5 separate regions of the Homo sapiens genome follow, and all the other regions are linked to region 1. Evidence: fine-mapped expression QTL. A gene starts in region 1. Each other region holds a variant in brackets. All regions are shown on one strand. Distances are from middle to middle.

Region 1 (6,275 bases):
GGATAAATATTTGATGGATGCCTAATGACATGGAACAGGATTCTGTCCTAACGTGGCCTACGCTTCTTTTTTTTTTTTTTTTTTCAACCAGAGGCTTCCATTAAAATAGAGGAGAAAATCTGTAAGTGATAAATGATAAGATGGACAGTAAATAGGAGTTGACAACATTTTTAAAAACAAAATCTTGGGCCAGGCGCCGTGGCTCACACCTGTAATCCTAGCACTTTGGGAGGCCAAGGCGGGCAGATCATGAGGTCAGGAGATTGAGACCACCCTGGCCAACATAGCGAAATCCCGTCTCTACTAAAAATACAAAAAACAAAAAAAAATTAGCCGGGTGTGGTGGTGGGCACCTGTAGTCCCAGCTACTCAGGAGGCTGAGGCAGAAGAATCTCTTGAACCCGGGAGATGGAGACCAGCCTGGGTAACAGAGCGAGACTCCGTCTCAGGAAAAAAAAAAAAAAAAAAAAAAACCTTGACAAGCTGAAAACACTGCCTGACTATATTAATAACACACCTAAAAAAAAATTGAGTGGTTTCAAGTAAATCTAATATGAATCCACAATGTATTATGAACACCCCAATGCTCTACTGGGAAAAATAAAAGTAGAATATCTAAAATGAAAGAATAACTCCAACTAGACCAATTTTGGTACACCCAATCTAAGGTGCCATTAAAAGAAAGAAAGATAGATGAATGCAGGAGCAGGGAGGGAAACTGGAGCATACTTGGTATAATCAGGCAAGTGAAGGAACTAGGAACAAACATCAAGTGAAAGACCTGGCAAGATTTCACTTAGAACTAAAACACATATACTTGCACATCACTTAAACACTGAAGTAGGGAATAAGTTAGATTTGCTCTTGGTGCTCTCAAGAGGACTAGGATTAATGAATAAAATTTGAAGACAGCAGACTCTGACAAAACTTATAGCTGTTAACTTTCTAATAAGACCTGTCCAAAAACAGAATGGGTTATCTCAGAAGATTGAAAGATCTCAAGTACACAGGTGTTCAAGAACAACCAAAGAAGATTCAAATATGGTTTAAGATTTCAGCATAGCTGAGTGCTTATACTGGATGAACAACTTTTCAGCTGTCTTTCAATCCTCTTAGTGATAGAATGTGCATGATCAAGATTTTAATATAAGGAAGACATTAAGGAATCTAGTCAGAATTTAAGGCACCAATTTTGCTCATGAACTTTCTCTAGCACGTTTTGCAAAGGCATAGGGCCAAAAACCACATCAGACATAAAAGGTCTTAAGATACCCAAAGGTTTAATTGCCACTCACCTGCCTTGTTACTGTGATTTCATCATGAACCTCAAATCCTAAAGGACTTTGCTTTTTGTCAGAATTATCAAAAGTGATTGACACAGAGGCTTTGGTAATACCAGCCTGCCCATTTTTGTAAACTAAATCTTGTAAATTAGAAGCCCGAACCTAAAATAAAATATGAAAAGTGTAACAATTACAAAACTCCCTACCGTACAAAGCAGCACTAAAAATGGGTCCCTTGCTGTTGGAAAACCCACCAACGTAGTGTCCATTAAGTAGACAAGGTTAGGCAGCTGCATCCTCTGGCAAGAAAAACAAGGAAAATAGGCAACAACCTGCAATGGACACTTTTCTCTACAGAACCTTTTCAACCCTGAATTGAATTGTTTCCTATTCATTTTTTAATAAAAAGTTACTTTGCAAGATATAAGGAAATACTGTCCCAAAGATTTTCACTAGTCATTCAATCCATTAATAGGATTTGAAAAGGCATCATTACACAGGGTTGAAAATACTCTGGAATGAGACTGCTTTACAGTCAGAATGCCTGAGTTTTGAGGCACTGTTACTTCTAAACATCTCTAAGTTTCTATTTTCTCATCTAAAGGAGTAATATTACTTTCCTTAAAAGGTTGCAGTGAGGTGTAATTTACAAAAAGTATAAAAACACAAATGAAGAGAATATCGGGACGTCTCCAAAGTTCAGTGAGGATTCTCCTGCCAACTTAAATTCAAATAAATCAGAAAGTTTACACTTTACCTGAGACAGGTTGGAGATGCCCAGCAAAAAGCAGATGGAGTCCAATATGTTGGATTTCCCACTACCATTTAAGCCAGTGATAGCATTGAAGAGGGGGTCAAAACCATTGACTTCGGTCCTCTGAGCATAGGACTTGAATCCCTCTAGAATAATTGACTTAATATGCATTTTCGATACTGTCTTGGGTCAGCAAACCTCTGACAGGAATCAAACAGGCCACAAACCAGTTCTGTACGAAACAGAAATACCACCACCTAAGTGGAATGTAAACCTGGAATCATAATGAACACGAGGCAAAAACAGCAACGATAGGGTGATAGAAATAAAACAGCCACTTGACAAACTATCTTGTCTGATGTAAAGACATCGTTCATCTACTCAAAAATATACCAGAGTTAGCCACTATCTGGAAATTAAACCATTCAACTGGGAAGTCTTAACTATTTCTTCTACCCGTTTTTCCAGGCTTGCCTTCTACTTTTATCATACTCTACCTAAACAAAGACTATGGATTATTACATATCCCATTATCTTTGCCTATAATGTGCTTTTCTCTGATACTGACATAGCTTACTCTCTACTGCACTCACGTCTTTGCTCAAATGTCACCTTACTGGAGTCCTCCCTGACCTCCCTATGTCACCTCTCCACAATCCTTCACTCGGCTTTCTTTTTCCTTCATGGTACTTAAAGCTGATATTAGACGGTCATTACTTGTCTGTAAGTTCCCGCAGTGTCTTCACCTACGTCCGTCATTGCATCCCCGAATTGTGCTTGACTCCGGGAGGAGGGGAAGTCATTTAAGTATTTACTAGAGATGAGATGTATCTCATATTCTCCAACTTCTTGCTTTTACTCAGGCTTTTACCTCGCTTCTCCAGGCCTGTCTACACCTCTTCGCCCTACTCCAAGGTCGAACAGAAGCTAGCCTTTATTTCTAAGGATCACCTAAGGTCCCTCTGCCACTGGTCCCCCTCCCTACAGCCCCCGCGCCCCGCGCCCCGCCTCCCGCCTCCCGCCTCCCGCCAGGAAGTCTGGCCCGGCCCAACCGGCCGTGCTCACGCACACGCCTCACCGCTGCCTCAGGCCAGGGGCTTGACGCACCCCAAAAGCTCCTCCGGGTCACAAAGGCAGGGAACAGAACAACTCTCTAGCCGGGGCCGCTACAAAGCGAACTTCACCATAGCGGCTACAACACCTGCCACACCGCTCTCAACACCCGCGCCGGAACTATTTATTCCTTTGAATTTCGGCGCGAGCAAAGGACCCCACCTCCATTGCTTATTTCCTGTGCTGGTGCCTAGGAGCTGCCTGTCTTTAGGGTTCAATTTTTCCCCTACACTCGAAGGATTAAAGCCGCAGGGCAATAGAATGAGAGTCTCGATAATGGTAGCTCCGGGGACTCCCCGGCAGGGGCCTGGGCACTACAGGAGCAGATAGTGTATGTTCACACCGGCGTCCGGCACTCTATGGTCAGCCCCACACCTCGGCCCCGGGTCCTCGCGCTTCGCCAGCCCCGCCCCGCCTCGGTCCCTCTAGTTCGCGTTAGGCACACTGCAGACTCCGCCTTCTCCAGTCTGCGGTGCTGGCTGTGGCTTACTTTTCTCTCCTCAAAGCGACAGTTAGGAAGTGGAGAGGCATTCTATGAGTGTTCTCGTCGGTTCTGTTTTGGAAGCTTCAGAATCTTCTCGGGTTGGCTCAGATTGCTGCAAAATAAAAGCTGTACTTCTTGGGGCCAGAGAGGCACCGTCCTTCGGGGGACTCTGGCCCGCGTCCTGGCTCCGCCCCGTACTGGCCTCGGACCTCGGGGAGCGTTTTTATCTGAAGTTTCCACGTCGGAAAGGGATCGTAGTCTACCGAGAGCTGTTCCGAGCCCAGAGGAGAAATTGTGTGGTGCTAAATAGCTATTCATCTCCCTTATACCGGAAAGCGTTGTAATGATAAGCCGACCTAACCTGTTGGGGATTTTTTCTGGAAACCTTTTAAGACAGTTCATGTTATTGAGTTCTGAATATTAGGCTATATTGCAAGGGGCTTTTTAAAATCCACGTAGCAACCCTATGAAATCAGAAATTGCCCTCGTTTTACAAATGAGTTAAATGAGACCAAGTAAAAGGTTAAACAGCTTGTCTAGTAAGCTGGGATTTGTTCCCAGGCGGTCTAGCTCCAGATTGCATGCTTTTAAATACTAGGCTTCATGCATAGAATCTAGTATTATTAGCCGATCCTATTATTAGTATGTATTGTTCTTTAGGAAGAAAAAACGTGTCAGGATTGCTCACGTTTCCAAGCACGTTGATACTTAAGAGTTAGGAAGGGCTTAACTCCGAATGGGTATGGTGTTACCCTAAGTGAGGTTCAAAAAGATGGTGTGGGCAACAATGCTATTTTGGAATGGCTTGATCCTTTTGGGCTTCCATAACAAAATATCCTAGACTGGGTAGTTTATGAACCACAGAAGTTTATTCTTCACATTTCTGAAGGCTGGAATGTCACAGAATAAGGTGTGTCTAGGGAGGGGTGCTTTCTCTTTAGTGGATAGCACCTTCTGGCTCTGTCCTCGCATGGTGGAGAGGCAGAGGCCCTCGCTTGGGCCTATTTTATAAGGACCTTAATCCCATTCCTCACTTCCCAAGATGCCACTTGCTAAAACCGTCAGTTCGGGAGTTAGGATTTCAAAATGTGCATTTTGAGGGACACATTTAGACCATAGCGTAGGTCATGTTTTTAAAGTTGCTTTCTTGGCCCTGGAATGGCAATGCAGTCATCTGAATTGGTCTTAACCTACCAGGAATGGGCTTATATTTTGAAAATATTTCTCGATAAGGGAGTAAAATAAGTTGTATGGGTTTTTTGTTTAAGAAAGGATTCCTTTGTTTACTCTGGTATGCTTATCCACTTCTGTGATGTCAACCATGGGTAGTGACCTAACATTAATTTAATTCAACAGATATCTTTGTCTGCCTTGATTCCTGCATCCCCTGGGCTCCACAGCTATTCACTTGTATTGATTCTGTTAACTCTTACACATTAACTTTGAGCTGTGTCTCCTTCCTTTTATCATTTTGTGAGTAAAGAATTTTAATTTGCCAACAAATCCTAATGTGGACTTTGTCACGTTGTGAAATAAAGTGATTTTTTGGTATGGAAATATGTGTTAAGACAGACTGTTAGTCTTTGCACTTTAACAACTAGCTGATACACTTACGTCACATGGATGAAAACATACACAAGTGCACTGTTGTTGGATAAGGACTCCTGGGTGGTTAGAAGAATGTGCAGATCTAACTACTCCCATTAAGACCATTGATTAAAATGAAAAATGCTTATAAAGGTGGAGATCTCTCAGTTTTAGTCTTATTGCGTGCCAGAAGCACTAAGGAATTGCTGCTAAATATAAGACAAATGGACTTGAGGAAATCACTGATGACTAACTTGAAACTCTGCCTCCTGAGATCACACAGGTGAGTGGAAAAAACCAAGGCACAAAGCCAGTGAAGCCCCCTAATTTGGAGATGTGAGGGGTAGAAACAGAGAGTATAGGGTAGATGCAGTGTACAGAAAACACTGTTCTTGCTTCATCACCATGGATTAAAATCGTTTGAAAGCTTCAACGCTAGCGGGCAGTGTTTCAAGCAGAAATCTGGCAGCTAGTGGAGTCTGAGTCCTTATATGGAAGGCATCATCAGTACCAGCAAGGACACACATACAGCCACAAAGCAAGACCTAGGAGAAATATTTGGTGCTCTACTCTCCTAGGGAACTGGAAGGAACCTGCTCTCTCCTGGGTATACTTTTCTAATTTTAGAGTGCTAAAGAAGCTCTTCTCACAGGGACCCGAGTGAATCCTTTCTCCTTGGAACAAAGGACAAGAAAAAAAGAAAGGACTTTACCGCAGAAGTAAGGAAGACTCATTTTGTTGAGAGATTATTTTTAGGTTCAAGGAAATGAATTGATAATGACAGGAAGTTTATATTTTTACATTGGATTGACTAGCAGCACTTTTATTTTTTCAGAGAAGGAGTCTCACTCTGTCTCAGGCTGGAGGGCAGTGGCCTGGCAGCACTTTTTGAATACACTCGTGCACCACATAATATTTCAATGTCTGATTACATTATGTGACTGTGGTCCCTTAAGATTATAATGGATAATTCCTGTTGCTTAGTGATGTTGTAACATCGTAGTGCAACATACTACCCTTTCTGTTTAGAAACACAAACACAACATTGTGTTAT
Region 2 (6,275 bases), 400 kb before region 1:
TGCCTTGTGAAGACAGGCCCTCCTATTGTCAGTAAATGACTTCAAAGAAGGTATATTAGTTTGCTGGGGCTGTCATAACAAAGTACCACAAACTGGGTGGCTTAAACAATAGACATGTATTGCCTTACAGTTCTAACGGCTTGGAGTCCAGATCATGGGTTGGTTCCTTCTAAGGGCTGTGAGAGAGACTCTGATCCATGCCTTCAGCCTCTCTTCTGGTAGTTTGCTGGCATTTTTTTGGCATTCCTTGGTTTGTAGAAGCATCATCCCAATCTCTGCCTTCATCTTTACATGGCATTCTCCCTGTGTTTATTTCTTTGTACAGATTTTCCCTTCTTATAAACACATCAGTCATATTGGATTAGGAGCCTGCACTACTTAGTTATGACCTCATCTTAATTAATTGCATCTGCAATGGCCCTGTTTCTAAATAGGTCACACTCTGAGGTACTGGAGATTTGGACTTCAACATATTAATATTTGGGAGGCACAATTCAACCCATAATAGAAGGCCTTAAAACTATTTCCCAAGTTGGGATTTTAAGTATCCTCTGGTGGATTTCTTTCATTTTTTGTGTGTGTTGGGGGGTGGTTAAGTTTTATGAGATGGTCAACATGGCCATTGTATAGAAATGTTTGAAATGTGTCATTAAATCTTTATGCTAAAAAGCAAGAATAAATTATTTCTTTTTCTCTTTTTCCTTCCTTCCTTCCTCCCTTGCTCCATCTCTCCCTCCCTTCCTTCCTTTTTTTTATACATGATGTCGTGCTTACATCTGGTACATGACTGAAAAATTATGAGTCAGAAGAAAATAGAAGGGGCTTAAAAGTAGGACAGGATGGGAGACAGAGATTGTAATATATCAAAATGTTGGCACTCATACTTCATGTTTTAAAGAAAAAATGGCAACATAAAGCCTCATTAAGTTCTGAATGACCAAGTTTCCTACAGCAAATATTCTAAGACCTCTTATGTGTGCCCAGTTTTCATTTTTTGTTTTTGTTTTTGAGCCTTGAAGAGCACTAGTTTCTTATCTCATAGGCAAAGGCAAGATGCTCCTTGTAATGTTATTCTGTATTCTATTTTCTATCCAAGATGATGTCCATCAGGAAATGATGTTACCTATAGCAGCCAAACTGGCCACTTAAAAGACTGCCCAAGAAGAGGATGTTAGCAAGTGATTGTGCTTTAGCAATGAAATGAGTCAACTGCAGTTACCTTATAGCTGGGTTTTAGTGTTGTATAAATTTGTCTTCCCAACATGTGTTATTTACATCAACTATATTTAGAAAAATATTTTGCTCATTAATATCCACAAGAAACTTTTGAAAAATACTTTCTGTGTGAAGGCCCAGTTTCCAGCCCAGAGAACTTTGAGCTGGATAAGGCATGATCTCTGTCTTGAGGAGGAGTGTACCCTCATGGAGTTGAGCTCATTTAATAACCTGGATATACACATGTGCATGTCTGCAGCACGAATGACCTGAATGCCCATTGTGATCAGTGCCAGAATACAGGGCAAGTGTCAGATACTTTGCAGGTGGTTGATGAAGATACCATGTCAGCCTGTGGGTTATTCTTGCACTCTTGCTATTCCCTCTTTTCTCAAACCTCATTGACCATTCTGCTGGCCACTTTTAAGGGTCAGGCAAGTGAGGGTACACATAACACCTGGGTATGTCTTTGAGCATATCTGTTGAGTCATGATTGTCATCATGATTAGTGTCCTCTTCCCCAATGAAGGACAACTCTTGAATGTCCTCTCTTAACCTTAATGTGCTCATTAATTGTTTAATTCTTCAGCATTCTCAAATAACATTATTTTAATACTTAACTCTTTTCACTGGCTTAAATTTATTTTCAAAACCCTCAACTTAGCTTCATTTAACAGCTTTTTAATGTGTGGAATGATGGATTCCTGCATATAAATGTATAGTTTATTAATGTAATGGAGTCACATTGCCGTGGAAGAATTCTTCCTAATTTTATGCCAGGTTAACTATGCTTCTGCAGAGAACACTGCATCTTTCAGATGCTCTGCCAATGGATTTAAGTGTGAGACCGGCTAGTATAAGAGAATGCAACCACAGATCTGGCCGGAGAACTGCCAGTTAAAATATATATTACTAAAAATAGCCCTCTCCCTCTCCCCTCTCCCCTCTCCCGTCTCCCCTCTCTCCACGGTCTCCCTCTGATGCCGAGCGGAGGCTGGACTGTACTGCCGCCATCTCGGCTCACTGCAACCTCCCTGCCTGATTCTCCTGCCTCAGCCTGCAGAGTGCCTGGGATTGCAGGCGCGTGCCACCACGCCTGACTGGTTTTTGTATTTTTTGGTGGAGACGGGGTTTGGCCGTGTTGGCCGGGCTGGTCTCCAGCTCCTGACCGCGAGTGATCTGCCCAGCTCGGCCTCCCGAGGTGCTGGGATTGCAGACGGAGTCTCGCTCACTCAGTGCTCAATGTTGCCCAGGCTGGAGTGCAGTGGCGTGATCTCGGCTCGCTACAACCTCCACCTCCCAGCCGCCTGCCTTGGCCTCCCAAAGTGCTAAGATTACAGCCTCTGCCCGGCCGCCACCCCGTCTGGGAAGTGAGGAGCGTCTCTGCCTGGCCGCCCATAGTCTGGGATGTGAGGAGCCCCTCTGCCCGGCCGCCCAGTCTAAGATGTGAAGAGCACCTCTGCCCGGCGGCGACCCCGTCTGGGAACTGAGGAGTGTCTCTGCCTGGCCGCCCATCGTCTGGGATGTGAGGAGCCCCTCTGCCCGGCCGCCCAGTCTGGGAAGTGAGGAGCGCCTCTTCCCGGCCGCCACCCCGTCTGGGAAGTGAGGAGCGTCTCTGCCCGGCTGCCCATCGTCTGGGATGTGAGGAGCCCCTCTGCCCGGCCGCCCAGTCTGGGAAGTGAGCAGCGCCTCTTCCCGGCCGCCATCCCGTCTGGGAAGTGAGGAGCGTCTCTGTCCGGCCGCCCATCGTCTGAGATGTGGGGAGCGCCTCTGCCCGGCCGCGACCCC[G/A]TCTGGAAGGTGTGCCCAACAGCTCATTGAGAACGGGCCATGATGACGATGGCGGTTTTGTCAAATAGAAAGGGGGGAAATGTGGGGAAAAGAAAGAGAAATCAGATTGTTGCGGTGTCTGTGTAGAAAGAAGTAGACATAGGAGACTCCATTTTGTTCTGTACTAAGAAAAATTCTTCTGCCTTGGGATGCTGTTAATCTGTAACCTTACCCCCAACCCCCTGCTCTCTGAAACATGTGCTGTGTCCACTCAGGGTTAAATGGATTAAGGGCGGTGCAAGATGTGCTTTGTTAAACAGATGCTTGAAGGCAGCATGCTGGTTAAGAGTCATCACCACTCCCTAATCTCAAGTACCCAGGGACACAAACACTACGGAAGGCCACAGGATCCTCTGCCTAGGAAAACCAGAGACCCTTGTTCACATGTTTATCTGCTGACCTTCCCTCCACTATTGTCCTATGACCCTGCCACATCCCCCTCTCCGAGAAACACCCAAGAATGATCAATAAATACTAAAAAAAATAATAATAAAAAAAATAAAAAATAAAAATAGCAATAGGAGCCCTTGTAGTAAGACATGGCCAAAAATGAAAGGCAACATACTAAAATAAGACATCAGCCGTGCCTTTGCAGAGTCACACAGACGGAAGATGGCATCTCATTTGTTTTCACTTACACTGTTTTCCTAGGATTCAGCACATTGCTGGTGCTTTGTAAATACATGTTATCAAACTGTATAATTGAACAGATTGAAAACAGTTAACCCAGTAGTTCTGAAATTGGAGGTCCTCTTAAGAACTATTTAAAGAATCAGCAATTTATTTGATAAATGACTTGCAGGCAGGTCACAAGATTACAAGTCTAAATGTTTTTATTATTAATGTAATTATTTTTAAGGATAAACAAATAGAAATTGATAAATGTAATTGAAGTATGGTCTTCAAAGTCCAATCAAATAATATCAAATCTGAACATCGGTAAATTAATACACCCCAAAAGTTGTATATCATGGAATAAATTTAAATTCTTTGTAATGCTTAGTATTTTTATTTTACATTTTTATTTATTTATTTATTTATTTATTTTGAGATGGAGTCTCATTGTGTCGCCCAGGCTGGAGTGCAGGGGCGCAATCTTGACTCACTGCAACCTCCACCTCCTGGGTTCAAGCGATTCTCTTGCCTCAGCCTCCCAAGTAGCTGGGACTACAGGTGCATGCCACCACGCTTGGCTAATTTTTTGTATTTTTGGTAGACACGGGGTTTCACCATGGATGCTAACTTAGTATTAACTCACCGTAGTGCCTAACATGGTGTGCCTGACTAGCACATGGAGTTGAATCACACTTAGCCAGTTCTTGGTAAGCATTTATTCATTTAAAACTGAAGGAGAAATGTCCAAAACATGGCCTCAAATAAAAATCAATGAAAATTTGTTCATAATTAAAACTTTACACAATTATGGCAGATGTAAAGGTTTCATTCAGCATTTCTTCAGTTCCTACTTTGTACCAAGTATCCAGACTTAATGATGCAACTTATTTTTCTGAACTTTATTATTTGAAAACAACAATTTTTCTTATTATGTTGATTTAGATTATATTGTATATGATTATCTATTAATTATGATTAATAGAGACAGAGTTTCTTTTATTAAGCTCCTGTTAGAAACAAACTTCTTCCCACTCCGAGAAAGATCAAATTATTCCTACCCTTTAGAATTCCTGAATTCCATAAAAAATTAATGCCCTGAATATTTCAATTAGGAAATATGTGCAGTAATTAATTTGTTTAAGAGCTCGGTAAAGAGTCTTTCAAAGACACTCAGTTCAAGGAGGATGTTAATGATAACAAGAGGTCTCTCAATATTGACATCATGTTTGTGCTAAGGTCATAGACTGTCATTATAACTTCAGTGTTTTGACATGTGCTGACATGTTTAACTTGCTGAAACACATTTAAATATTTCTGTAAATCACCTACCAAAAACGAAGACTATGCTTAACAAGTATCCTTGAGAAATGACTGCAGCATCCATCATGAAGTCATGTTACAAAGAGTCAAAGTTGCTAGTCCTTTTGCAGAGAATTTCCTGTGTGTCCTAATGGGACCAGTGAGAGTTGGTGTTGTCGTTTCTGTAGGAGTCATGATAAAGTGTCTTCAATGCTTGTAGGTAGATAAAATCATTCTCCATGAGAGTATCTCATAGGACTCAGCACACAATATCCAAGAGTTTAATCATGTACAGACATAACCATACAGTTTACAAACTGGTACGAGGATAAATGACTAAATTATGGACAATGTCCAAGCTTTACTAAAGTGGCCAGGCTATAAGAAGGGAAAATTGTCACTGAATTATCTGCAAGGTGCATGCTCCCATTAACAAAAGAGTGGCCTTATCTGCTTGAGTCTAGAAAAGGAGGAATTTTGTACCACATAGAGACACTTTATCTAAAAGACAGTCTGACCACTAGAAAATGAACAGGATTAGGGGACATGGAGAAACCATTAGCTTTTCTTTATCTTTGTTGAAATATTCCTCAAGAGTATCCTATTTCTTTTCTCTGATTTTTTGTTACTGACAAACTTTTGACAACACATCCATTTCCAAACTACCTAAGTATCTGGTATCTAATGGCAGGAGAAGAGTGTCCTGGGCTTGTTGGAAGTGTTTATTCCTTGGTAAATTAGTAAATCTGCTGTTTATTCTTCCATGGTAAATTGATAAATCTGTTAGTGTCTGCTTTATCATTTATCTCTTGAGAATTTGGTTGTTATGAACCAGCCCCTAAGAGGCCAGTTAACTCTTGCCACACTGATAAGTTAAATTTCTGAGACCAAAATAATTAAGGGGGCCAGGTATGGTGGCTTACGCCTGTAATCCCAGCACGTTGGGAGGCCAAGGAGGGGTGGATCACTTGAGGTCAGGAGTTGGAGACCAGTCTGGTCGACATGGTGAAACCCCATCTCTACTAAAAATACAAAAATTAGCTGGGCATGTTGGCAGATGCCTGTAATCCCAGCTACTTGGGAGGGCTGAGGCATGAGAAACGCTTGAACCTGGTAGGCAGAGGCTGCAGTGAGCCGAGATCACGCCATGCCCCCATGACCCAGACACCAGTTCCCACCTTCAACACTGGGGATCACATTTCAACATGAGATTTGGAGGGGACAGACATCCAAACTGTATCACTATCCGTTGATTAGTAGGTGACTTTAAACATCCACATTTTCTCAAAAACAGACTTTTCAAAGTCTTTAAAACAAAT
Region 3 (6,275 bases), 61 kb before region 1:
TTTTGCATACTGTCTTCAAACCTTTTATGTAACCTTTTAAAACTCCACATGGTAAAACAAATATATATATGTAGTATTTTCCTAAAAGCAATAATAAATAATGAGACATGCAGGTTTGTGCTTCACCAAGAAAATCTTTGTAAGACAGTTGGGACCAAGAGAGTTTGTTTCCCCCTCAAAATATAATTTTCTTTCTGACCAGAGGGGAGTGAGATAGGTGAGTGGACCATGCCAAAATTGATTTAACATTGTCTAAACAGAGTCCCATCAACTTTTCAAACTATATAAAACTATGCTCCTGATTGATGAAACTTAACTAGACATGTGAGAAGCAGCAGAAAATCTGACAAAACGTTGCCTTGAATTATTTTGTAAAAATAATTGATTGGCATCAGAAACACCAATTACATTGGTGCAAAAGTAATTGTGGTTTATACCATTGAGGGGAATAGCAAAAACTGGCCAGGTGCAGTGGTTCACGCCTGTATTCCCAAAACTTTGGGAAGCTGAGGTGGGCAGATCACTTGAGAGCAGAAGTTCGAGACCATCCTGGCCAACATGATGAAACTCCGTCTCTACCAAAAATACAAAAATTAGCCAGGCATGGTGGTGCACACCTGTAGTCCCAGCTACTCAGGATGCTGGGGAATGAGAATCCTCGAACCCGGGAGGCGGAGGTTGCAGTGAGCCGAGATCACGCCACTGCACCCCAGCCCGAGTGACAGAGTGAGACTCCATCTCAAAAAAAAAAAAAAGTGAAAAATGTAATTACTTTTGCACCAAACTAATATGTTTACAGTAAGAGTTATAGACATAAAAGAATATTACCAATGAGAGAAAAATAAGTGTGGAACAATGTTATATGTCATTCCAATATAAATCCTGTTTTAGTCTAAAGTTGATTTGTCATGTGTAGGTTGTGAGAAGTCCACTAGAGAACTCCACTACATAGCAGAGGTAGGTCTATTACACTACGGAGGATGCAATAAGCAGTAGCATGCATGATGGAATTTCTGCTCCAGGACAATTAAATAGGAAGGTCTCTTCCATAATCTCGATCAAAAATAAATGTACTCAAATACCTTTATGGTGCTGACACAATGGAAAGAAAAAATTGATTAATTAGAAAAGAGTAAAATAGGAATGGTCTAAAAGGGTTACTCTGGAAATAGAAATGTGAGTGGACAGTGGGAGGAATAATTTTCTTTTTATAGGTATAAAATGTAAATTTTGAATTTCTTTGGCCATGCCCATGCACACATTATTTATAAGAGAATTTAAAAATATTTAAAATAAGCTGGGCATGGTGGCTCACTCCTGTAATCCCAGCACTTTGGGAGGCCAAGGAGGGGGTGGATCACCTGATGTCAGAAGTTCAAGACCAGGCTGGCCAACATGGAGAAACCCCATCTCTACTGGGCATGGTGGTGAATGCCTGTAATCCCAGCTACTTGGGAGGCGGAGGCACGAGAATGGCTTGAACCAGGGAGGCATAGATTACAGTGACCTGAGATTGCACCACTGCACTCCAGCCTGGGCAACAGAACGAGACTCTGTCTCTAAATAAATAAATAAATAAATAAAATAATTATAAAGAGGTAATTGAAAGCTTGAAAAGAAAAAGAATACCATGGTATAATTCTAAAATTTTATCAATGTTATTAGTACTTTATACCTGTTTCACAGGCATGTAAAATGCAAAAGCTGTATGTTGTTTGGTGCATTTCTTTTTTAAGAAAATGGTGAATAGCAGCCTCATCTAAAAAACATCTACAAAGTGACAAAGTGATGCCAATCCCTCTCCAAATAACTGCTGTCTACTTATTTTGTATTCTGAATCGCACCAGTCAAAACTAAGAAAAACTTATATTGAGACCTTTTAACACCAAATTATATATATACAATTATATATATATATATATATATATAATTACATATATACAGCCTATGTGTGTGTGTGTATATAACATATAACATTGGTCCACACGTATTTTTCTCTCATTGGAAATGTTCTTTTATGTCTACACACACACACACACACACACACACACACACACACATACACAGTAAAAAAAATACCACTTGAAATTCTGTGCTTTCATTGCAGAAAGGAATTTGAATTAAGAATGGCAATTTGGGTGAGAAGTTAAAAACTAGAACTGAAAATCTATGAAATCTATGACCATATGTTTTCAGGGAAAAATATATATCAAAACATGAAGATTACTAATTGCAGTTTCAGTAGATTTTGTCACAAACTGCACATGGCTCAAACAGGCTTTTGTACCAACACACTAAACTGTTGTTTTTCACTTTAAAAGATTTAGTGCTAAGAAATGATTTCATTTGTGGCAGTTGCTACATTTATATACTTACTGTGCAGCATATCTTTTTATCTGGATTATTTGATAATGTTTCCTGTGAAATGTTGGAAATCATCATTATTTAAGGAATTTGGAAGTAACTATGCCTACTTAGTTTGGTATTACTCTTTCAAACTTTTTATTTCCTTTCAGAGAAAGAAAAAAAAATGACTTAAGTTGCTCACTAGAATATTTTTAGCTGAAAATATTATAAGAGTCCAAATTTTCTTCTCAGATTAAGCAGAAGGTCAAAGGCTTAGCCTGGGCTATAGCTCTGGGGAATGAAGGCTGGACCTAGGAGTAGGGTAGAAACAGGGTTTCAGAAAAGAAATTGCATTTTGGGAGAAAGCTGTCCTGTAGAAATACTAGCAAAAGACCTACAAGGGCATGGAAGTGATTCAAAACCAAAAGAAGCCCGCCGTGGTGCAGATTTGTAGTCCCAGCTACTCAGGAGGCTGACACAAGAGGATCACTTGAGGTCAGGGGTTCAAGACCAGCCTAGGTAAGATGGTGAGACCATCCCATCTCTAATAAAATGTTTTTAAAAAAGAAGACCATGAGAAAATAGGAAAATTAGGT[T/C]TGTAGTCAGCAAGACTTGAGTAGATAGCTTCAAGAGAGAAGAAAAGAGGAAAGCAACAGAGGGATGGATGAATGAGAGAAGCCTCAAAGAGAAGTGGTGATTCTGACATAGTTACCTAGACTCTACGTCCCAACCATCGAATATAGGCCAAATTTTATTCCTGTTTTGGGTTCTGAGTTAGGTCTGTTGTGGTATCCATAGGTTGGACAAAGTAGGGGGCAGCAAAAAGTGTAGTAGATGTTCATAGTATGCCTGCAGTTGCAAAATGAGTGGATTGACAATTTTTACATTGTGAATTTGAGTTTGAATATATCAGTTTGCATATTTAGCTATGGATAATGCTTTGTAACAGAAAGCAAATCAGAAGGCCAAGATAGTTTTCAGTGTGGTTCCTTTCCACTGATTTTGTCTAAAATCCAGGGAACACCTTGGATTTGCCTTAGCAGTATTTTTCTCTCTGTTTAGAAAATTAATTATGTCGCTGGTTTTTGCTCTCGTTAGAATTGTGCTAAATTCACAAGGTTAGATCATGAGTCCACATCCACATTAAAAAAAAATTTCTCACACCGCTTTTCTCCTGACTGATGATTGTTTGAGGATCTTCTAATTTTCCAGTCAAATCAGATTTGTTAGGAAGACAGAGTTTAAAGTCAAATACTTTTCTCAATCCAGTTGTAGAAGTGCCTTTCCAGCTTCTTTTCTTGATTCCATTTACACAATCTATAACCCAGGCATATAGAAATGTTTGTAGTCTCCAACATTTAATGTTTCATATTTTCATGCCTTATGCATGTCCTTCCCTCTCCCCTGGAATGACATTGTCTTTTGCTGCCAGTAAAGGTTCATTCATTTCCCACTCTCATCCAGAAGTATTAATCATCAGAGCCTCTATGCCTATAGCTGTCTTACAAATAGACTACCTGTGATTTGGTTACAAGTACCGTAATGGATCTCCTGAAAAGCCATCTGCTCTACCTCTTGTCCAAGTGCTTGAGATTTCCTCAATTATAAACTCATGAATCTTTAATAAAATGAAAAACTTTTTAACAAGTCTAACACTTTCCATTTAGAAATACTTGTTTAGCTAGAAGAGATAACTTGAAATGTTCCCAAAACATAGATACCGTAAGTACTCAAGGCGATGGATTCCCCAAATCCCTTGACTTGATTATTACACACTCTACATATGCAACAAAATATCACATGTACTCCATAAATATGTAAACTATTATGTATCAAGTGAAGAAAGAAACATTTGTTAATCTCTCTGTGTCAGGTACTATGCTAAGTATTAACGATAAAGAGATACATTAAACATTCTCCCTGTCCTCCTTGCTTTCCAGGGGGTATAACACCGAGAGAATATAATACAGTAACCATCCTGAGAGGTCTTGACTTACTGAAAAAATATGAAAGAGGCAGCATCTCAAGCTATCTGCAGCAAGGCCTCAGTAGACATAGCATTAAATCTGACACTTGAAAGATACACAAACAATTTCTAGACAGAGATTGAAATAAAGGGCTTGTAGGCAGAAGAAACAGACAAGTAAAATAGGATGGAAAATTTGAGTAATGCACAAAAAATATATATAAGAAAACTGTAAATAACCAAGACACAGAGTAGGTAGGGGTAGTAGGCAGCACACATAAGGGAGAAAGTACTGGGTTGGACATTCAGAGACAAGAAGTTCCTTGACATTCCTAAATTTAAATTGCCCCACAGTGAAAATAATTATGGGGTTGAATCAGATGAGCTCTTAAGGAGATGTGTGTGTGTGGTTGGGTGGAGGTGTGATTTAATTTATACAATTCTTTCCTACTATGTTTCATGTATTGTTAGGTAAAAGGAAGACAATTCAAAAAAACAGAAATCTTAAAAAATGTTTTTTACTACAGTGTTTCATGTGAAGGTATTATACATCACATGTGAGGTGACATAAACAAGAATTCACTAGTTCAGCAATTCCTGATTGATAGAAAAACTCCTAAGTGCTAAGCACTTATTTAGGCACTGAAAACGCTGGAATAAGCCTGCTCTCTGAGTCCAAAGAGTTTGGTTTGTTGGGGTGACAAATTAATCCATAAGACATGATAATATAAGTGTAAATGTACATTTGGAATAGTATAGAATAATTTTGATTTATGTTAGTGGTGATAGAGTTTAACGTTTTTTTAGTACCTTGTATGTGTCAAGAAACTGCAAGAACATTTACTATGTTCTAATTTGTCTAGCAATCTATCTAGTTGATATTATCAATGTCACCAATTTCACATTATGAAAGAGAAAGGACAATAAATAGATTACATTTAGCTTTTGTACAGGACTTTGAGAAATTCAGAGCTAGACCTAAATGGGAAGAGCTATTCCAGCTAGCTGTTCTTAGTCCTGAAGTCAAGAAGGGTGTTCTGAAGCTGTCACTCTTCAGGGAGATGGGGAAAAAGCTTTACGCTACATAAAGTACAGTAGAACATACATGAGAAATCTTAGTAAAAATCCTCTGAGCAAACTGTTACTGTGGAAGAAACTTTTGTCAGAGAATAATGATCCTATATAAAAAGCATATACACTTTCATATGCTATAGTGTAGTCCTCCTCAAACTGCAGTTTGAGGACCTCTGGGGAGGGGTCTTAGGATACATTCTCAGGGGTCTGTTAACTTCTCAATATTTTAAATTTTGTGCTTTTTCTTTCGGTAAGTTTAAAAGTGAATATAAACATGTTTAAGGCTCATCTTAATAAATAACTTGTATTCTTGATACAAGTGATTTCATTGCTTGCCTTTATAATTGTATAACAATATCTTTAGCATGAAGTAGGAATGCTTTGATGCAATTGAGCCATTAAATAAAAGAACAGAGGTGTTTTTAGCATGTACATGGTTTTGTCTTAGTAGGTGATGGCAAAATAGCATACTGTACAAGATTACAGTGATGTACATTGAGAAAAGTGGTGGGAAAAATAAGTCATTACATGGCTCATAATACATGTTATATGCTCTGTATATCTGACTCTCTATGCTGCAACTTTATTTCACCCCTTTATCTGCATGAGATGTTGAGCTAAATTGTGGTTTCATGGTTGTTTGTAGTCATTGTGTATTTTTTGCTCTTTTAGTTTAAAAGAATGGAAGGCAAAAGAGTTCATTTCGAAGTTTATGATCCTATATATTTAAGTAAATTCTGTGTAGAAAGTTTTTTTCCCTTTAGTTTTTACATTATTAAATGGCATTTTAGAAACACATGTTGAAAAATCATGAACCTTGGAATTGAAGAGATGTATTTAAATTCTGATTCTGCTATACCTCAGTTGAGGGGAGGTAAATTAATGTCTC
Region 4 (6,275 bases), 32 kb before region 1:
GAGGTGTCTCTCTGCATTAATCCAGTCATAATCTTTCAACATTTTGGATACCTAGCCACATATAAAAATAGATGGGAGATCTATGAATGTTTACAAACCAATATGTATAAGCCAGTTTCTTAACTATTTAATACTTTTGAATCAAATACTGAAGAGGAAAAAACCTTCAATGACTAATTTTTTTTTTTTTTTTGAGATGGAGTTTCACTCTTGTTGCCCAAGCTGGAGTGCAATGGCGCGATCTTGGCTGACCGCAACTTACACCTCCCAGGTTCAAGTGATTCTGCTGCCTCAGCCTCCTGAGTAACTGGGATCACAGGTATGTACCACCACGCCCAGCTAATTTTGTATTTTTAGTAGAGACGGGGTTTCTCCATGTTGGTCAGGCTGATCTGGAACTCCCGACCTCAGGTGATCTGCCAACCTCGGCCTCCCAAAGTGCTGGGATTACAGGCGTGAGCCACCGTGCCTAGGCGACTCATTTTTAAAAATGAGTTTCATTACTGACAAGAATAAAGATGAATATTTTTACCTGGAACACAGACTACAGAAACAAGACACTGTATAGCAAAAGATCTTCCTATTACTTTGGCATTAGAAGAGCCAACTCACAGAGAAATTTTTACGAAGTATACGCAAAGCACCTCCATTAGAATGAAATGTAAGTCAGGTAGAACTCCTTCAGAATTTACCAAATTCAATCTATTGCTTCAAAACACAACTTATGAGAAGCTAAAACTCTTTTAATACTTAAGTCATAGATTTGGTAAAAATCATGGAAGCCTAATGCTGACTGAGACCTAATAATTTTTCTCTCAGAAATATATTCTAAGAAACTGCCCTAAACATTGACTCTATCCTGCTCCCCACCTTTTGAAAAAGGCACAGTATATTGAAAAAGGCACTGTATAATAATTTTTCATGTAATACAACTGATTATACAGTTCAAATTATAGTGCCTAAAGAAGACTTTCTTCTACTAGAATTATGATTCATTCTCACTGGCAGAATCCAATCCTTGTTAATTTATTGACTTGTATTAATTCCATGGATATGGTCTCACCTGTAGGCCCCAAAGTACAATTATCATTTCTAGTGTATCTTCCTTTTGACCTGTAAACTCTTTGAAAGCATCCTGTATGTGTTGCTCATCCTTACATTGTCAGTGCCTGGCACAGTATCTGATACTGGTAGGTATGTATAAATCTTTGATTGACTTCTTAGCAGACCCACTTGCAAGTCCCTCCTTTTACTCTTGTAAATAAAATCTCCTAGCAATCGCCAGTACTAGCATTTTCAATTACCAAAAAACTATTAGCAGTAACATTGCCATTGGTAGTATTTCAGTCAGTCCACTATCACTAAGCTAATGGGAAATCAATAGTAATAAAGTGGTAGATTATAATGTAGCCATGAAAAATGTTGTTTAAATCAAGTTCCACAGTTCTTTCAGAAGAGAGGGAGATTGTTTTGTATGTTCTTGATCTTTCTGAAGTTAAAGTTCATGTATTTTTAGGATGCTAAAAAAAAATATCCTGGACATTAAAAAGGTGCCAAACTGTTACACACTCATAAGAAAACATGCTAGATGAATTATTAATACCATGTGAATGCAGCTTCTTAACCAAGCAATGAATTTCTGCAAAAGCACGTGTTATCTTTAAAGCACTGAAGTAAAGGTGCTGTGACACATGAAAGAAAGAAACTGGGATAACCTCAAAAACATAGCTGCTTGGCAAAACATCAGATTTTTTATAAAGTTGCAAATACTGACAGCAGTAACACTCATAAAGACATGTGGAAGCCAATTCAGTCCTTTTTTTAGATTACCTGTATATATAGTTCTGTGAGTTTTTTAATTCAATTTGAAATAAGGTAGAGAATATATATCATTATTACTAGCACATCAGTAATTAGTTCTATCAACATTTGGAGGTGAAAAGTTATTTCCATGGGAGACCACTAAACATTTGGTAAATACATCCTGTAGATGGGAAAAAATATCTAAAGTTAAATCTAAAAATAAAACATTTGTGCAATTTGTTGAAAATTAGCATTGTTGAAAAGCAGTTAAAGCTGCAAGCTCAAATTTATGCCAGGCTGTAATTTTGCCATTTATATTTATAGAGTTCTCTATCAAGCAGTTTTCTAAATTTTTTCAAGAGCTCAGTAACAAAAATTTGATTTAGTATAAAAAATGCACACAAACGTATACCTTTGCAGCACCATCTTCAGCCTCCCGTTTATGTTTGCTGATGTTGTGGTCTAATTCCTTAATTTTAAGCTGAGAATCATTGTTTTGCTCCTTGTGTTTTGCCACTTCTGCATATTTAGCTTTAATTACAGTGTCTTGGGCTGTTATCACCTCTTTTTGCTTGGTCACCTCTTCTTGAGCTTTATTTACTGACTCCTAAAACAAAAAAATTAAAGAAAATATGTGGTGAGGTAACATGTAAATAATTTTAATTTACTAAACAATTATCTGACAGATCCCTGGGCAAGAGGGCAATGTGATTACAGGCAGAGAGATGATCACCTAACCCTCTATATTTTATATCACCATTAAAAGGACTAATCAATTTATACACAGAAGAAAACTTGGATCATCCCTGGTAAAAGGGGTGGGAGGTACAATGCTCATGCTGCACGCTCATGCTGCAAATGAGAGCGTTTTTTGTTAGATGTAATGTAGATGGAATCAACTAAGTGAGGAAGAAGAGGGACTGCTAGAAGCTGACTGACCTATGTGATCCCAAAACTGGCAATTCTGGATGAGTAAAAGCTATTTGTGCCTCATTCTCTCATGATGACGAGTGAAAAGACTGAGAACACTAAAGTCAAACATCTTAAGCTAATGTTTCATAAAAAGATTCGCATTTTCAATTTCTCGAATTTGATAAATAAATCCTACCTTATTTTTAGCCACCTCAGCTGCCATTACTTCAATCTGACTTTCATAGGATTTGATAGCTTCATTTACAGCTTCAAGCTGTTGTTTGTAAGATGTATGCTCTCTCTTGAGCTCTTCCAGTTCCAGAGTGATAGCTTCAACTTCCTATAAAAAATACAGTATTCAGGTATTCATATAGGTTATTAACTACTGAAAAACAAATATGTACAGAACAATTAAATAAATAATAATCTCATGCAAGTAAGACCCACAGCTTTGTTACCACTCAGCTACCGAAAGTACAGGTTAAGCTGCTTCCCCAGAAAAGGAAGTTTATTTTCCTATATCAAAAAAAAAAGTATGTGTAATTTTTATAGGTTCAAAGAACTCTGCATAAATTATTTTCTTTATCCTTTATTCCTATAGGGAAAATAATATAACATTCTACGTAACAGATGAATTACTGGAAGTAAAGCTTTTTTAAAAACAAAATTGTTCAATGTGTAAAAAGTTTCTCAATATTCTTCTTTCCCACTATAGCCTTCAGTTCATTAGAAGAGCAGTCCCCA[A/G]CCTTTTTGGCACCGAGGACCAGATTTGTGGAAGATGATTTTTCCATATGGCGGGCACAGGGAGAGAGTATGGTTTCAGGATAAAACCACCCCATCTCAGATCATCACGCATTAGATTCTCATAAGGAATATGCAACCTAGATCCCTTGCATGCACAGTTCAGAAAAGGGTCTGCACTCCTCTGAGAATCTAATGCCACAGCTGATCTGACACAAGGTGGAACTCAGGCAGTAATCCTCATTTGCCTGTCACACACCTCCTCTGTTACTGGTCTGTGGCCTGGGGGGTTGGGGACCCCTGCATTAGAAAATACTTTTTACAGCTATTTAATGACAAGAATCTTAGAGTGGGCTAAAAAAAAATGCGAGGGAAATATATTTAGGTGAAATCGCATAAAAGTGATTAACAACGTAGCCTTTGGAGACAAAAACCTAGGTTCAGATTCCAGCTTTGGCATTAGCTAAAAGATATAACAAAGTATCATCAGTTTACAACTGAATGACACCTTGTAAATATAACATGCTTTGTCTTCCATTATGCTCTCACAGTGCACATTCATTTAGGTGCTTATCAAATAAAAATGTCAACTTGCTGAATCTCTGATATGACATCCAGAATATCAAATAATCCACTCCTGAAGAAAGGCCATCCACTCTTGAAGGAAGCATTTACCAACCGTCAACTTTGCCCTTTCCTTAAAATTAGCATCCCCTACTCACAACTATGAAACACTCGATTGCAGGGTTTTCAGAGAAAAATACAGATTAAATATCCCTTATCCAAAGTGTGTAGGACCAGAAGTCTTCCAGACTTCAGATTTTTTTTTTGGATTTTGGAATATTTGCATTATACAGAGTAACTGAGTATCCCAAATCCAATCTGCTCCAATGAACATTTCCTTTGAGCCTCAGATCAACACTCAAAAAGTTTCTAATTTGTATTTTGGATTTGAGATGCTCATCCTGGATACTCCTTTGACTTGTAAGAAGCATAATTTGTTTCCAAAGAACACTGCTCCCTTTTAGATTCTGAGATCAATTCTGATGAATAAGGTCAACCAATGATGCTCTACCACCTTCAGCTCTATGTTGACTTTAAAAGGTTGGTTCAATTTCAAAAAGAAGTTATTACCTGTTGTTTTTCTTTCATCTTCTTGCTAGATGCATCTGCCTTTGTTTTGGCACAATCCAGTTTTTTCTGAGCATCTTTCAGTTCTCGCTCTCTTTCAGCTTCTGCATTTTTCATTTTATTTTCCAATACTTCATATTTTTCTTCTGCTTTTCTTTGGATTTCTTTAGTGTTTTTCAAAGTCTCCTCACTTTCCTCTGCATCACAAAGTAAGCAAATGTGGCTAAGTTAACAATGGTAAAGGTTGACAAATTCAACTTTTAATAGAAGAAATGGTTTGGAAAATTACAGGGTACAATTTAAGAAAATTAACTATCCCAATGATATTCTAGAAATGGTATAATGAAACACAGATCCTACCCAAAAGCCATACTTGAATTATCTAAAGATCTGTAACAAAATAATTTCTTTTGCTATGAAATTGAACTTTACCTACAACTATCCTTTTACAAAGGTATTGAAGCAACCTATTAAAAAAAAAAAAATCACAGATCATATTTTTAATGCAATTGTATGCTTCCTAAAACCAGAACAGTATAACTATGGTATTTTTTCTATAGTTGCTAGAAAGTGTGTAATTTCATAAACAAGCTTACTTTATGTTCTTTGCCTATTTTATACATATTCAGGGAACTTCTCATTAAAGTCGACAAATAATATGACAGTATGCCTGGGATACAGCAAAGGAAAAACATCCCCAAATCTGTGAAAGAAAAAAATAAGGTCAGGCGTGGTAGTTCATGCCTGTGTAATCCCAGCACTTTGGGAAGCCAAGGCAGGCAGATCATGAGGTCAAGAGATCAAGACCATCCTGACCAACATGATAAAACCTCATCTCTACTAAAAATACAAAAATTAGCTGGGTGTGGTGATGCACGCCTGTAGTCCCAGCTACTCGGGAGGCTGAGGAAGGCACCTGAACCCAGGAGGTGGAGGTTGCAGTGAGCTGAGATTGCGCCACTGCACTCCAGCCTGGGGACAGAGAGAGACTCCGTCTCAAAAAAATAAATAAAAGGGCAATACTGAATGAACACGTGTTGCTGTAACAACTGATGTATATTGTGAGTGTTAGGACCCAGGTGCAAACATAACCTTGGAAGTCATTACCGCACAATTTCTTACACTACTTTTCACTGCAGAAAATACTATTAAAATATTAGTGGAGAAGCACATGTGTGGATATTGTCCTAATGAATGACAAAAATTTAAACTACCATATACAATTAAATTCTAAGGAAAACATATAAGCTATCTTAAAATTAGGGAAATGGCTATAAAGTGAATTACACTAAATATTAAAAACTTTTGTAAAACAAAAATACTATGAACACAAAATTAAAAGACCAGTACATAGCCAAAAAAGATGGTAAAAGGATATTTGCAATGCACATAACCTACAGGAAATTAGGACTCTTAAGCATGAGAACAGTGGGAAAAAAACCATGAGCAACCCATGGGCAAAAGAAATAAACAGAAAATTCACACAAGTATAAACCCAAAGGTCCAATGAACATACAAAAAAAGATCCCAAATTTCATCAGCAATTAGGGAAATGCAAATTAAATGCTAATGCATGCTATCTTTTCACAACCAACAGATTTGGAAAATTTTAAAAGTCTGGAGAAAAAAGAACTTGGAGAAATGTTCATATGCTGCTGGTGGAAATGAGTATTGGTAAAAACGAACAG
Region 5 (6,275 bases), 47 kb before region 1:
ACAACTAACAAAACCTTGAGGGGCTGGCACTTTGACACACCTTTTATTACATGAGTAAGTATCCCAATGGCAACAACAAAAACAGGGACTGGATTGTTGTTAGCCCTCTGTGTAGGGGCTTCATGAATAACATTGTACGAGAGAACCTGAGTGAATGCAACTATGCCATTAATAAGACTTGGTCACTGTGGTCTGTGACAGAATGAGGTCCAGAATGGCAGATCACTTTGTGGCCATGGCCACAGCTTAGGAGAACCTAACAAAGGTGTTATGCATCCAAACCATCCAGATCTCTCAGAGTTGACTCCATCTATGGGATAGGGGTCAGGCTGAGTTGGGGCAGTAACCCAGTCTGTCTATCCCTATCCTGAGGCCACTACCTCTGCAGGCCCCATTGCCCTTGTTACTTCACCCAGACCTTTTGGCCTCAGTGGTCTAGTCCAGGAAGGGAGGTCAGGTCCTAAACAAACTTGACCTATCTGATAACATCGCCCACCACAATGGAAGGATCAGATGTCTGTGACCTGTACACAAATGTTTACGGTATTCATACTAGCAAAAAAACTAGAGTCAACCTAGATATAAAGATACACACAGGAGTATTATTTAGCGTTAAAAAGGACATGTTATTTGTGACATGTATTAACATAGAAGGGATAATGCTAAGCGAAATCAAAGAGGCACAGAAAGACAAATACTCTAATGATCTCACTCATTTGTAAAATCTGAAAAAGTCAAACGCATAGAACCAGGGAGTAGAATGTGGTTGCCAAGGGCTGGGGAGCAGGGGAAGTGGGGAGATGTTTATCAAAGAATACAAAGTCATAGTTATGCATGATGAATAAGTTCTGGAGATCTGCTGTACAGCATGGTGACTATAGCTAATACTGTTATATATTTAAAATTTGCCAGAATACATCTTAATGTTCTCACCATACACACAAAAAAGGTAATTATGTGAGATGATATGTTAATTAGCTTGATTGAGGTAATCATTCCATAACATATACAAATATCAAAACATCACACTGTATACTATAAACATTACCATATCCTGTGGTACTACCCTTGAAATGCCTCAGACATTTCAGCCTCAGCCATCCAGTCCAGGAAGGGAAGTCACTTCTTGAATGATGACATGTCTGACAACATTGCCCAGCCAAATGGAAGGATCAGATGTCCCTGGCACTATCAGAGGGACTCTAGCATCCTGGTATTTCTTGGTCCTGTTTCCACCCTTGAGGGATCCCACAGGGAGTGCACCTGAGGGAAACGCTGACTCCAGATTAAGAGTTAGGGGGGCCTTTTGGGGTACTGTGGCAGCCTGAACTGCAAACCACCCACAGGATGTGCACTCTAAAAAGAGAAAATGGCTGGGAACACTGGAATTTGGATTTCACAGGCAGAGGCCGTCATCTGGTCCACCTGTACCTCCTCCAAGCTCAGTGCTTCTCAACATGTGCTGCAATCATGTGGTTCCCTTGCCCTGGAGGGCAGTGCTCAGTGTCCATACTGCCATATTCGGATGGGGTGGTACCACCCCACTTGTAGGCTATCTTGGTGTCCTTCCTTCACTCATTGTGAGCTGGCTTTCCATTGTTCAACAGCTCTATTGGACTGAGGATGACAGGGTGCATGGAAAACCCATTGTATTCCATGAGTGTGCCTGCTGTCATGTTCCTTGGGCAGTAAAGGAGGTTCCTTGTCAGAGCAAAGTTTTACAGGGTATCCAAAAACATAATTTAAGTTTCCCTAAAAGGTGGCTATGGTATTCCCAGCATCCACAGGTGACATGTATTTGTCCTTGCCAGTTAGCAACCTTTTGCCATACTCCTTGTAACCACACAGATCTTTTTCCACTTGGTTGTCATTCACCTGACCAGATAGCAAGGCTGTTCTTTTTGACAACTAGTGAGAAGTGGGGAGAAGTGGGTCAGTCCAAGGTCACCTGGAGAACGGTCTTGCAGGTGGCAGTTCAAATCACAATTTAATTTTATTATGGTAAACTGCAAACTGCTTGTCTTTTTCACAAAGATTCTCTTTGATGAAGTTCTAGCCAGGTTCTTCTGAGCCCTTTCTACGTCTAAATAAACCTTTGCCTGTAAAGATCTGAAAAAAACACTAGCAGTTTCTAACAGCTCAAAGCCACATCCATAGGTTGACTATCCTCCTCCTGAAAGTCAACTCCTGAGAAAACTCAAGGTTGCTGAGTTTACTGTTTCTTCCAACCAACACTTGAAGGTAGAGTCCCAGTCTCTGTGGGAGGGTAAGAGCCTACCTTGGCATTAGAGCCAGTTAACAAATCTAAATGGGTTTCACATCAACCAATTCCCTTTCCTGTTTATATCCCTGACTCTAAGCCCCCACTTATCCTCCTCTATTCCCTCATTCTCCCTTTAAGACACCCAGTCACCTCAATACAAATCAAAATTGAGTTCAGTTCATACTGGACTCTTCTTATTTCAAGAGTATGTTACTGATTTAAATCTATCCTTACTGTTTTAACTAGTATCTGGCTTTATCTTTGATGTGTTCTGTATCTAGAGTTCAGGGGTTAATTACTTTCGCTGACTTCATCTACTAAGTAAGTCTGGGGACCTCTTTCTCCAGGTCCTCGTTTATCCCTTCTGAGACGTCTCCTTCACTTTCTGGAAGCTGTGGTTAGCCCAGATCCCATCTTTTAGTTCTCCAGACCAGAAAGACCCCAGGCTTTCCACTGCAGCCTTAGCTGTCCTACAGCTGCATCATGACTATAGCTGGTACTTAGGTTAAAAACATTAACCTTAGCTTGTGCCTGTCTCTTCCTCCGTATTTTATCTCCCATCCAAAATCTTTCTAGTTTTTCTTCAGTTTCCTGAACTCTCAGGTAGTTGTTTCTAGTATTTTGCTCAGAATCTATATTTATCATCTGTGGGAATGTTGGCCTTTAGATTATGCCACCCTATTGGAAGAGAAAATTTCATGTCTTTGCTTTGCATTTGCTGTGAGCTTACTTGAAATGCCAAAACCGCCACCACCACAATGAATCCTCTCTTCACATGGTTGAGGTTCTTCTTTAAGGTAACATTCACGTTGTACATACTGCTCATACAGGTATTTTTCTTAAATTTATTCTGTACAATAAATACAAATGTTCAAGCTGTCAGTGACGTAGTATATCTTAGGTTCTGGAGACTGACAAGATTTGTCCATGGGCCCTGACACTCCTAACTGTATTATCACCCTGAGCAAGTTTCCTAACTTTTCTGCTCAACTCACTCAATTCCTCGATTACACCATGCTGACAACAACAGTATTTACCTCACTAGGTTACTCTGAGGATTAAATATGACAATACATACAAATGAGAACAGCAGCTAATGTAAAGAAAGAGCTTGTTAAATATTAGTTAACTC[A/G]TATTACTGCAGATGTGTGAAACAAATGTCCCCAATCCCCTTAATGTCTTCCCTCTAATGAAAAAAAGTTACAACAATTTAATACATGTTTGAGGGTTTTCAAAGATCAAGATTATACAAGACAAAAATCAGGAACGCACACAAGCAAAACATTTTTAGCAGAGAAAAGGAAATGAGTACGTAAGCCAAAATAGTCAAACTCCCAAATTATTTTTAAAACGTTGGCTAAAACAGCAATGAAGTACCACTTAATAACTAACTGTTAAATCAGAAATATTAAAATTAACAGCAAGTACTGACTAATTTGTATACTATGGTATACTTTAATATTGACAGTGTGAATTGGTAACTGTTTTGGCACAGTCTGTAATACATTTGAAAGGAAACAAAAAAACTATATTTGACATTGGACTTTCTGTAACTCAACATTTACAGCATTATTTCCTCTCCCCTCCACAGTGGACAGAACTAATTCCAGATTCAATCCTTTCCAATGTGTCCCATAATATCAATTACTGCATGTTTTCTGACATCTCATATGTATGGAGAATGAAGGGTGGGAAATGTCAAGCCCAGGGCCAGGAAGTACGGCCATATATCAGGGGAAGTATGATAATAACACTAAGGAAATAAGACTAAAAAATCAAGAAGAGATGTGGGGCCAAAATAACACATGGAAGATCAGATTACATCATGTCAGACCTTTCATGATTCAGTTTGGGGTCACTGTTCTAGTGATGACGTACCAAAAACTGTAGACAGTATTCTCATGGTGTTCGCTAGTGTCATCTTTCAAGTTCTAAAGGAATTTCATCCCTTTGAACTGGAAAGCGGAAGACAAATAATCATCCAACTTTTGAGTTATTTTGGTGGAACAGATGGATTGAGTTATTTATATTTATACATATATATATCAGACTCAGGGAAAAATAAATTTGGTTTAGTCTACTGGCACCTACATTCTTGTTTACCAATAGGTTGTTAATGACTGGATTATGAAAAGGCTGACAAAAATCTTGGAAAATATTAACAAACTTCAGATAAATTTGCAGCAGATAGTACCACGCAACACACCTCCTAAGCTTTGATTTAAAAATACTTACACAGCTTAAAAAAACAAAAACATTAAAGTCGTAGAGACCAATTATTAAGCGTATAGGAACATGATATTCATGTATCATTAAAACGTAGAGACCAATTATTAAGCGTATAGGAACATGATATTCATGTATCATTAAAATAAGGATTCTTTCAAGATCTGTTTCCTATCTCAGTCTAAATCAGGGGTCTGGAGTTGTGGCCTTAAAAAACTAGCCTCAAACGGCTCCATGCATGCATAATAGCTTTATATGTGTTCCCTTTGTTGGTCCAGTTACCTGATTTATAATTCTTCCTTACCTGAATGACTTTAGAAAACACATTAATATTGCCTTAGGAATTAAATCAATTAAACACTGATGATCAGCTACATTTATCATGTAATTTAATCTGCTTTTTTGTATATTAGCTTTTACATATAGAATCGGGTATCTCAGGATCCCTAATATATAAAAGACCCGCATAAGAAAAAAACATTTGATGATATGCATAAAATCACAACCACAATAATTGGACCATAATTAGACTAGTTAAGAGATGAGGAATATATGCTCATTTGTAAGCGATAAGTGATTATATAAAGAGAAAACATGGGTTAAGTAACACAGTAACATTAATTTTTGTATATAAACAAATTAGTTATCTCAAGTCCTTAAAAGTTTACATTTAAAAAAACAGGTCAAGATGAAGAAATAACTTTGTAGTTTAAACTTCCACATGTGCTCCTTTGGGTGGTTTTGCCTTGGATTTTGCTTCCTTTGAAATCTTTCCATTTTGACATTGAGTAAATCTGGCTACTGTAGAAACACCATCCACAAACTTGGTTTTGAAAAGAACGTTTGCATTGTTGAACATACCTTCTTTTAGTGACACCACAATGAACTTAAGGAAAAAAGAAAAAAGTATAAAAAAACTTTTTGTGATATACTTGAAGTTTACTCCTTTATACTGGTGATAAGAATGGTTTGGAGATAATTTTATTTCTTTAAATAGTTATATGAGGCACCTAAATGAATGCTAGCTGTCCATATTGTTTTAGAAGTCTCTTAATTTTACTTTGGGTACTTCATTACCCAATTTTACTATTTCCTGGTGGTTGACTGCTTGTTGCTATCTTTTGTAGCTGGCATTCAGTTTTGTTGCTAACTAAAGCTGCTCTAGTGAGATATTTTTCTTGTGACATTTTAATATCAAAGAAGGTTTCAAGTTCCTATAGCACACCACTAGCCCAAACAGAACTTCTGAATAATTAGGCACTGCCCCGCCGCCCCATTCAATGTTATTTGCCAAAACACTGCTATAATAAATACACAATCCATGGTAACTATGAGTGGAGTCCCCAGAGTTGTACAATGCATAATTTATGCAAGCATATTTGGCAGCCCCAGCTCCTACAGCAATAGTGCATTAAAAACAAACTGTTCTTAGCTTCAAGAGGCTTTCTTTGTTCTACTTTTTAGCCATGAGAAATTAAATTTCCCCATCAAGTGTCACATGATTTTCTGATACCTCAGTTAAATATCCCGGAGACAGTTTTGTTTTGATTGTACATCTTTATGGTAGTTAACTAGAGAAAACAATTATATTAACCCTAAATCAATTCTGTATTATGACTAAATTGGAATCTCCCTCATGCTACAACCAACATTTTTAATGCCTAGCTCTTTCTTAAAAAGGAGAGTGAAACTTTTTTCCTTCTATACCTATTTAAACATAAGTCTATTTAAATAGATATACAATGCTTTAGTATTTATCAACCCTAAATATCTTATTAACATTGAC

Direction of the effects. Positions count from the first base shown, and alleles are read on the strand shown. Sizes are in standard deviations (SD) of each study's normalised expression. Not every link is listed here.
For the expression in monocytes of the gene that starts at base 3,284 in region 1, allele A in region 2 goes with a lower level than allele G (large effect, 1.0 SD a copy in CEDAR).

What was found. PIP is the estimated chance that this variant, and not a neighbour inherited with it, causes the effect. A credible set is the group of variants that fine-mapping cannot tell apart.
Region 2: its variant is the best candidate, but not a certain one, in a credible set for the expression of SMC2 in monocytes (CEDAR, PIP 0.56).
Region 3: its variant is the best candidate, but not a certain one, in a credible set for the expression of SMC2 in sun-exposed skin (GTEx, PIP 0.54).
Region 4: its variant is the best candidate, but not a certain one, in a credible set for the expression of SMC2 in whole blood (TOPMed, PIP 0.61).
Region 5: its variant is the best candidate, but not a certain one, in a credible set for the expression of SMC2 in whole blood (TOPMed, PIP 0.65).

What each region holds. Positions count from the first base shown.
Region 1 is chr9:104,091,318-104,097,592 of GRCh38, reverse strand. SMC2 (structural maintenance of chromosomes 2) reads right to left here and starts at 3,284. Exons shown (of 25, transcript NM_006444.3): 1 at 3,116-3,284; 2 at 2,041-2,269; 3 at 1,296-1,445. The coding sequence starts at 2,208. SMC2-DT (SMC2 divergent transcript) reads left to right here and starts at 5,119. Exons shown (of 3, transcript NR_121580.1): 1 at 5,119-5,504. RefSeq lists enhancers at 2,664-3,331, 3,550-3,869, 3,332-4,001.
Region 2 is chr9:104,486,474-104,492,748 of GRCh38, reverse strand. No RefSeq gene overlaps it. Among named protein-coding and RNA genes, the nearest start is that of OR13F1, 15 kb to the left of the region's middle. RefSeq lists an enhancer at 3,065-3,566. The variant G/A (reference allele first, on the strand shown) is at 3,004.
Region 3 is chr9:104,152,157-104,158,431 of GRCh38, reverse strand. No RefSeq gene overlaps it. Among named protein-coding and RNA genes, the nearest start is that of SMC2, 61 kb to the right of the region's middle. The variant T/C (reference allele first, on the strand shown) is at 2,943.
Region 4 is chr9:104,123,421-104,129,695 of GRCh38, reverse strand. SMC2 (structural maintenance of chromosomes 2) reads right to left here. Exons shown (of 25, transcript NM_006444.3): 18 at 4,591-4,784; 19 at 2,912-3,055; 20 at 2,216-2,410; 21 at 1-51. Among named protein-coding and RNA genes, the nearest start is that of SMC2, 32 kb to the right of the region's middle. The variant A/G (reference allele first, on the strand shown) is at 3,460.
Region 5 is chr9:104,138,239-104,144,513 of GRCh38, reverse strand. It overlaps SMC2 (structural maintenance of chromosomes 2), which reads right to left. Exons shown (of 25, transcript NM_006444.3): 25 at 3,095-5,375. The coding sequence ends at 5,199. Among named protein-coding and RNA genes, the nearest start is that of SMC2, 47 kb to the right of the region's middle. The variant A/G (reference allele first, on the strand shown) is at 3,396.